Linked DNA regions of Homo sapiens: region 1 is linked to region 2. Evidence: fine-mapped expression QTL. A gene starts in region 2. The other region holds a variant in brackets. All regions are shown on one strand. Distances are between the middles of the regions. Region 1 overlaps SEPTIN4 (septin 4). Region 2 holds the start of SEPTIN4 (septin 4).

What was found. PIP is the estimated chance that this variant, and not a neighbour inherited with it, causes the effect.
Region 1: its variant is the best candidate, but not a certain one, in a credible set for the expression of SEPTIN4 in whole blood (TOPMed, PIP 0.50).

Annotation. Positions count from the first base shown.
Region 1 is chr17:58,520,783-58,525,170 of GRCh38, reverse strand. It overlaps SEPTIN4 (septin 4), which reads left to right. Exons shown (of 14, transcript NM_001368771.2): 7 at 1-93; 8 at 3,070-3,204; 9 at 3,318-3,435; 10 at 3,525-3,626; 11 at 3,821-3,917; 12 at 4,011-4,173; 13 at 4,329-4,388. The region is part of intron 1 of SEPTIN4-AS1 (SEPTIN4 antisense RNA 1); the gene reads right to left. Among named protein-coding and RNA genes, the nearest start is that of SEPTIN4-AS1, 3.1 kb to the right of the region's middle. The variant A/G (reference allele first, on the strand shown) is at 2,042.
Region 2 is chr17:58,541,834-58,546,221 of GRCh38, reverse strand. SEPTIN4 (septin 4) reads left to right here and starts at 1,894. Exons shown (of 14, transcript NM_001368771.2): 1 at 1,894-3,596; 2 at 4,256-4,300. The coding sequence starts at 2,036. It overlaps SEPTIN4-AS1 (SEPTIN4 antisense RNA 1), which reads right to left. Exons shown (of 5, transcript NR_110810.1): 3 at 2,624-2,765; 4 at 1,551-1,686.

The DNA.
Region 1 (4,388 bases), 21 kb after region 2:
GCATGCAGTGGACATAGAAGAGAAGGGTGTGAGGCTGCGGCTCACCATTGTGGACACACCAGGTTTTGGGGATGCAGTCAACAACACAGAGTGGTATGTCTGAGTAAGCACAATCCCAGCTGCCCCTGAGCCACCCTTCTCCATACACAGGTACACACGTAGGCCCAGATATATCCATACTTATCAGGAGGAAGCGGTCTATGACCTTGAGCATGTGACTTCCCTTACTGGACAGCCATCTCCTCCTTTATAAAGTAAGAGGGAAAGGATTGGAATAGATGATTTTTAATGTTCCTTCCAATTCTGCCCTATGATTCTATAATGGGGTAGGGACATAAGAAAGAAGAGGCTGAGGCGGAAGTATCACTTGAGGCCAGGAGTTCAAGGCCAGCCTGGGCAACATAGTAAGATCCCATCTCTACAAAAAGTTTTAAAAATTAGCTGGGCATGGTGGCATAGGCCTGTAGTCTCAGCTACTGGGGAGGGTGAGGCAGGAGAATCACTTGAGCTCAGGAGGTTGAGGCTGCAGTGAGCCATGATTGCACTACTGCACTATAGCCTAGAAGACAAAGCGAAACCTTCCAAAAAAAAAAAAAAAAAGATAAGAAAGAAGAGCCTTAAAAACAAACACATGTGAAGTGTGAAAACATGTAGCACAGAGTTGATTACATAGTAGATGCCGAATAAACTGTCACCCTTTTTCCTTTCACTAGCAACATTTTAGGTGCCGCACACAATCTTGTTGAAGGGCTGGGCATGTATGGAGGGAGGGTAAAGGTGAGGAAGAATAGGCAAAAGGGAAAAATGGTGGAACTTTGTTTAAACTCCAGGCACCCTCTAGGCTACCTGCCGAAAGAAAAGCTGGATTTACCACAACCCCCTATCATTCGGGCTTTTTTATTTTTCAGGCACTGGAGGGACCCCCCTCCAGCTAATGGTCAGTAGGTCTGACCGTTACCTCCAGCTTAGGTAATGGTCAGACCTAAGTGAGTAGATGAAGAGGGAAATGGATGAGATTGACAGGAGAAAAGGTGGTAGCTTTGATGAAGAAGTTAGGCAGGCAGTGCTAAGAGCCCTAGACAGAGAGTTCAAATCTTGATTGGCATTTAGTAACTTCATGATCTTGAGCAAATGATCTCCTTCAATCAATTTACCTACTGTCTCTTACCTTCCATAATACTAATAATTTCATTTGCCAGGCACCTCACAGTTTAAAGTGTACCTCCATATATATTCATTTTGTCAGACACTTATTTAATTAAAATATACCAGCCCTTACCACCTCTCCAATTGATTTGAACATCACCCAACATGATGCATGCGCACTGAAAAGTGTAAAGGGCTATTTACAGCATACTCAGGAATTTTAACAATGGTAATTGCAGGACCAGCAACATAATTTGTTGGGCCCAGTGCAAATGAAAATGTAGGGCCCCGTGTTCAAAATTTTTAAGAATTTCAACATGGCAACGGCAGAGCATCAAATCAGCTAGAATGTGAGCACATACTAGATGTCCAGCCTGTGGTGGACATTTTAAGGGATTCAGAACAAGCATGAATGATTCCTATCCCTGAGAGGCTTATAGTCAAGTGGCAACAGGGAAGCAGGGGAGGTGGGGGCAGTTCTCTAACATGTTTCAATCAGATAGCAACTTAAATTAGTAAATGGGTCAGGCAATGTGTAGTGGCAAGTGCACTGAGCTGTAGGGGTTCAGGTGGGTAGAGAATTTACTAGCTAAATGACCTACAGAAAGTCCTTTTCCTTTCCCTCTCCTTCCTCCTTTCTTTTTTTTTTTTTTTTGAGACTGGTTCTCACTCTGTTGCCCAGGCTAGAGTGCAGTGGCCTGATCAACCACCTCCCGGGGCTCCCCGGGCTCAGGTTATCTTCCCACCTCAACCTCCCAAGTAGCTGGTACTACAGGTGTATGCCACCACACCAAGCTAACTTTTTTGTATTTTTTGTAGAGATGGGGGTCTCGCTATGTTGCCCAGTCTGGTCTTGAACTCCTGGGCTCAAGTGATCAGCCTACCTTGGCCTCCT[A/G]AAGTGCTAGGATTACAGGCGTGAACTACCACACCTGGCCTGGAGCAAATCTGTTAGCTGCTCTGGATTTAGTTTCTTCATGTATGAAATGAGAGTGATGATGATCATAATGCATAATGTCCACCTGTCAGGGCAGTGAGGATTAAACAAGATAATAGAAGAGCAAAGGATATGAAAATTGAGGTTCTTGGGGAAATTTATTTATTTATTTGTTTTGCTTTGTAGTGAAGAGAAGGGGAGAGCAGTGTGTATTGGTATAGTCAAAGGAGACTTCGTGGAAGAGATGGTTCTTAGGGCCTTGAAGGATGGAGTGGGTTTGGAGAGGTAGAGGAAAGGGTAGAAACACATGAGCAAAGAGGCTCTGAGGTTACACTGGAAACCTGACTTAGGGTTTCCCTGGCTTCCAGTTGGTATTTGCCTGCAGCCACCTTGCTATTCTTTTTTTCTTCTTCTTCTTCTTTTTTTTTTTTTTTTTGTGACAGTCTGGCTCCATCACCCAGGCTGGAGTGGTATGATCTTGGCTCACTGCAACCTCTGCCTCCTGGGTTCAAGTGATTCTCCTGCCTCGGACTCCTGAGTAGCTGGGACTACTCAGGTGCACACCACCACGCCCAGCTAATTTTTGTATTTTTAGTGGAGACAGGGTTTCACCATGTTGGTCAGGGTGGTCTCAAACTCCTGACCTTAAGTGATCCACCCGCCTCGGCCTCCCAAAGTGTTGGGATTACAGGGGTAAGCCACCGTGCCCAGCCTATTCTTACTGCTTTGTTTGATCACCTGGGCCCTTTCCCTCTCATCAAGCTAGTATTTATTAAACTTGCCTGAGTACTCAGTCTAATTTTGTATCAGGACATGTGAGATACACCCCACCCCATTCAGGAATTTCTCTAAAGATTTAGTAAAGCAAGCCAGGGAATAACAGTGTCTTAAAAACACTGCTCAGGGAGTGGGCTACTTCTCTGTAGTCCCAGAGCTCACTAGGTGGCTCCCACTCTCACAGTTTCTCTGCTTGTCTGTCCCTGCCCCAGCTGGAAGCCTGTGGCAGAATACATTGATCAGCAGTTTGAGCAGTATTTCCGAGACGAGAGTGGCCTGAACCGAAAGAACATCCAAGACAACAGGGTGCACTGCTGCCTGTACTTCATCTCACCCTTCGGCCATGGGTATGGTCCAAGCCTGAGGCTCCTGGCACCACCGGGTGCTGTCAAGGGAACAGGCCAAGAGCACCAGGGGCAGGGCTGCCACTAGCAGGTGGTCACAGGTTCCTGTTCCCCAGGCTCCGGCCATTGGATGTTGAATTCATGAAGGCCCTGCATCAGCGGGTCAACATCGTGCCTATCCTGGCTAAGGCAGACACACTGACACCTCCCGAAGTGGACCACAAGAAACGCAAAGTGAGGGAAGCTGGTGGTGGGAGGGGATCAGGTGGGCTTCTAGAAAGGATGTGGTCCCCAGAACTGTGGGCCCCTCATCTGTTTGTCAGATCCGGGAGGAGATTGAGCATTTTGGAATCAAGATCTATCAATTCCCAGACTGTGACTCTGATGAGGATGAGGACTTCAAATTGCAGGACCAAGCCCTAAAGGTGGGGCCACTCTAGGGCATCCCATTCCTATCTTATTTCTTCCGGGTAGAAAAAGGGAGTAGAATTCTATATTCAGGCTATCAGGGTGGGAAAGGACCCTGGCTTCCTAGAATGAAGCAGAGAAGATGACGATACAGGTGGAAAGAAAGAGGTGAGAACAGAGGGTGCTGACAGGCACCCCTAACCTCTTCCAGGAAAGCATCCCATTTGCAGTAATTGGCAGCAACACTGTAGTAGAGGCCAGAGGGCGGCGAGTTCGGGGTCGACTCTACCCCTGGGGCATCGTGGAAGGTAAAGCACTGAGCCTGTGACCAGGGTATCTCCTTGCCCTCAGTGGCTCTCCCCTACCTATGCCTCTGGCTGACCCCTAGCCTTGCTATGCAGTGGAAAACCCAGGGCACTGCGACTTTGTGAAGCTGAGGACAATGCTGGTACGTACCCACATGCAGGACCTGAAGGATGTGACACGGGAGACACATTATGAGAACTACCGGGCACAGTGCATCCAGAGCATGACCCGCCTGGTGGTGAAGGAACGGAATCGCAAGTATGACCAGAAGCCAGGACAAAGCTGGCAGGGGGAGATCCCAAGCCTAGCCTTGGGTGAGACCAAGCCCTACTTTTGTTCTTCTATAGGCCCTGGGCTCAATCTAAGCGGGTGCTGGGGTCCTCCTCGCCTTATCAACCCTTTTCTCCCTTTAGCAAACTGACTCGGGAAAGTGGTACCGACTTCCCCATCCCTGCTGTCCCACCAGGGACAGA
Region 2 (4,388 bases):
TTAGAAATACTTAAAACTGGCTGGGCACGGTGGCTCACACCTGTAATCCCAGCACTTTAGGAAGCCGAGGTGGGTAGATTATCTGAGGTCAGGAGTTTGACACGAGCCTAACTAACATGGTGAAACCCCATCTCTACTAAAAAAAAGAAAATCAGCTAGGCATGGTGGTATGCGCCTGTAATCCCAGCTACTCGGGAGGCTGAGGCAGGAGAATCACTTGAACCCGGGAGGCAGAGGTTGCAGTGAGCCAAGATCACGCCACTGCACTGCAGCCTGGGCAACAGCCTGGGCACAGTTTATTTGAAACTCCATCTCAAATAAAAAAAAAAAAAGAAAAATGAAGCTGACCATCCTATAATCTCAATGACCCTTCAGAGTTCATAATAGAATTTTGGATATGGTAGAGTCTATGTCTAAAAGAGAGAATGAGAGAAAGAGCATGTGAAAGGGAGAGAAAGGTGACAGAGTCTCCTCCAAAATGGTCATCCAAATTGGAAAGTCACTTTTCAAGAGAGAACCGGAGTCCGGCTGATTGGATAGCTGACAGGATCATGAGAAAGGACATTAACATTTGTTGTGTGACACCCATGTACCAGGCAGTGGTTTCCAGGTGAAGAAACCAAGTCCCAGGGAAGGCAGGTAATTTCTCCTAGGTACACCTGTAGTCATTTATGATGGAAACCAATGATTAACTCCAAATTCCTTCTTTCTTTCTTTCTTTCTTTTTTTTTTTTTTTTTTGAGATGGAGTCTTGCTCTGTCACCCAGCCTGGAGTGCAGTGGCACGATCTCAGCTCACTGCAGCCTCCGCCTCCCAGGTTCCAGCGATTCTCGTGCCTCAGCCTCACGGGTAGCTGGGATTACAGGCACGCACCACCACGCCTGGCTAATATTTGTATTTTTAGTAGAGATGGGGTTTCACCATGTTGGCCAGGCTGGTCTCAAACTCCTGACCTCAGGTGATCCACCCGCCTCAGCCTCCCAAAGTGCTGGGATTACAGGTGTGAGCCACTGCACCCAGCCCAAATCCCTTTTATTTTGTTTTTATTTATATATATTTTTTGAGATGGAGTTTTGCTCTTGTCACCCAGGCTGGAGTAAAGTGGCACAATCTCAGCTCACTGCAACCTCCAACTCCCGGGTTCAAGCGATTCTCCTGCCTCAGCCTCCTGAGTAGCTGGGATTATAGGTGCCTGCCACTATGCCTGGCTAATTTTTTTGTATTTTTAGTAAAGACGGGGTTTTATCATGCTGGCCATGCTGGCCTCAAACTCCTGACCTCAGGCAATCCACCCGCCTCGGTCTCCCAAAGTGCTGGGATTACAGGCGTGAGCCACCGCACATGGCAAATCCCTTTTATTAATAAAACACTAAACTCTCCTGGAGCAAGAATGTGAGAATTTTATTATTTGAGCAACCTGGATTTTTACCCCAGGAGCAATGAAACAATCCATGAGACCTGGAAAAAGCTGAAGCTCTCTTTTTTTTTTTTTTTTTAACTTGTATACAGTACAGTTTCAAACAAAATTGGGGCAACTTTGTACTTCGTACCTTATTAAAACTGGGGCGAACACAGCGTGTTTGGTTTGATCTTGTCTTCATAGGATCTTCTGGCTGATTCCTTCTCTGGATGAGTCCTGAGAATTTCTAGAATCTCGGGAGAGTAAAGGAGGGTCTGGAGCCTTCTCTATGTACAAGGAAATCCCAGTTTTGTTAAAAACTTGCCAAAGGCTTGGTGATATAACTCCAAAGACAAATCCACAGATTCCTTTCAGGTACTTCTTTGGGATTCTGTGAAGAATTGTGGCTGTACACTAGGATGTTTAATAGGAAGGAAGCTCCTTCCTTTATGACATCACCAGACAGAGAGGTAGCTAAGGGGATTATTTGAGACACTCTTAGAACAACAGCCACTTTTGTGGGAGCCCAAGAAACAGCAGCTTTAAAACAGGGTAAATATTCAGGCATCATTAGGATCCTGAATACAAGCCAGCCAGTAAAATACGGGATCTACTCAGAAGGGCACAATCTATCAGATGGTCAAGACAAATAAACCTGGGGCCAAGGTAGCGGTTTCAGCACAGAGAGGGTCTGAGGTTACTACTAACACATCCCCTCAGCAGGGACATGGGTACGTTCTTGCCTCAAGCCATCGAAGTGCTGCAGTCTCCCTGAACCCTTCCCACCGAAGATCAGAAGCTGCACATCCCACCACTCCCCATTCAGCATCAGACTACCCTCGATCTGTCTCCCTCCAGTCAGGACCTGGACACTATGCAGTACCCACTCCTCGGGGACCCGAGACTGGACCAAGAACAGAATCATCCCGCCATTCCTCTCCCCATCTAAAGAGCCAGAAGACTCAGACACTGGCTTCCCATGCTTCAAGCAGACAATGGAAAGTTAGTCCACCCAGAGAGGAAGCAGCACGAAGAGGCAGTGAGAGCAAGTCAGGGCGCGAGGTCGGCCATCATGCTTCATCAATCCCAGATGCCAAATCTACTCATCAGTTGAGTTTTCAAGACCAGAAGAATAACTTACAATCACAAATCTTAGAAGATGACCCACCATCCAAGGTCCAGAACCCCCAAGGAGTCAGAGTTCCCCGTAGGATTTTGTCTTACCCAAAGGATGAAGCAGTACAAACTGAGCCCATCCAAAGAATTACGACTACTAGTGAGATCAGATCTCCAAGGAGTCCCTCTCTCCTAGAGCACGGAAGCAGCTGTGTCTCTGCAGACTATCAGACAGCCCAGAGAAGGGTCCCTGTAGAAGAATCAGAAACAGGTCCTTACGGTCCAATTCCTTCAAAACCCAAGGCCTTGTATAGGAATATGAACTTGGACTCATTGCTCAAACTCTCTGTCCTTAAAGATTCTGATGGTGTACACCGAGTTTCTGCACGGGTAGACCCTGAGTCTCTTCATAAGTATTCTGCCTATCCTGAAACCAAGCCCTCCGCAAAGGTCTTAGTATCATCACAGGTGGAGTCCAACGTGAGGACCCCAATCCGAGGAAACAGCGAGGTTGGCCGCAGGGTCACCATCTCCCCAGGGGTACAGTCAGTAGAGCCAACTCACCATGTGACAGTTCCATCAGTGTCTGAGGGCTCCCACAAGTCATCCATGTTTGTTACTCCAGAGCCCATCTATAAACAGCAAACCCAAAAACCCCCAGAAATTACTTACATGTCCCAAGGACCTACACCCAGGTATCCAGAACTCTCGCAAAAGCCCTCCATCCATGCAGAACTGGAACTGACCCCTAGGCCCTTGCCTCCTCGGTCCTTACCTAGGTACGGACCTGACTCCTCATGGTGGCCCTTGCTGAATCCTGAAGTTGAAACACCCCAAAGCCAGCTGACAACACCGGATTTTGAGCCTAAGTGCTCTCCTTCCCTAGATCTTTTATTGTCCGGTTTTAAAATAGACTCTAGCCCTTTCTGTGAGGATCTGAAGTTCCAGAGAGAGAAGGCAAGCCTATCACCACCATCACCACCAAAGGAGTTTCCAAGTTGGGCACCACTGAGTGAAGTGCCACAGACCCCCAAGCACACCTGCAAACAACCCATTCAAAGGTTTACTGCTTTCTTCCTGGGTATGTGAAGAAGCAGACTGCCCAGGTGCAGCCCCAATTTAGTGAGATGGGATGTTGGGGTGGGCAGGAAAGACCACCTCTTCATTCTGGGCCTAAGGGCTGCTCTCCTGCCAGTGCCAAAGCTAGTCCTATCCTTGAGCCTATTGCTCCATTCCTTCCCTGCCAGCTTCTCTGTGCTCCAAGCTAATGACATTGATGATGGATGCTTGGGCCGGGCGACAGGCATTGACTCCTCCAGGCAACACTGCTTACCTTTTTAATTGAAGGTAGTAGAGAGGGGCTTGCAGGGTTGAAAGCTGCTTCCTGAGTGGGGATGAAGAACTGAGCTGGGGTGAGGGCTGGCAAGGGCTGTTAAATAGAATAAGGGCCTCAGGTAAATACTCTGGCTACAAAGTGGAGAGGGTGGGATGCAGATGAGCTGGGATTCCAGGAGGGGAAAGGCATTCACAGTGGCACAGAGAGAGGGTGTAAAAAAGAGAAAGGGAGAGTGGGAATACGATATATAGTCCTAGGCTGGAGGAGCTTCTTGGAGAGGACCAAGGGCTGAGGGCACCTTTGAGTGGAGAAATGTGGAGCTAGAAAGGGAGCTGCAAGTAGTGGAGAGTGGGATGTGCATCCCACAGAGAGAAGAAAAGCAACCATCTCTCTGTTACTTTCAGATGTCTCTGAGGAAATGTACAATCGTGTCATCTGGTGGCTAAAAGGTCTGTGCTTTTCCCTCCTATGGGCCCACTGTGGGAGCTTGGGGGATGGGAGGACAGGTGAGGAGTGGCATCTATGTATCTACAGAGC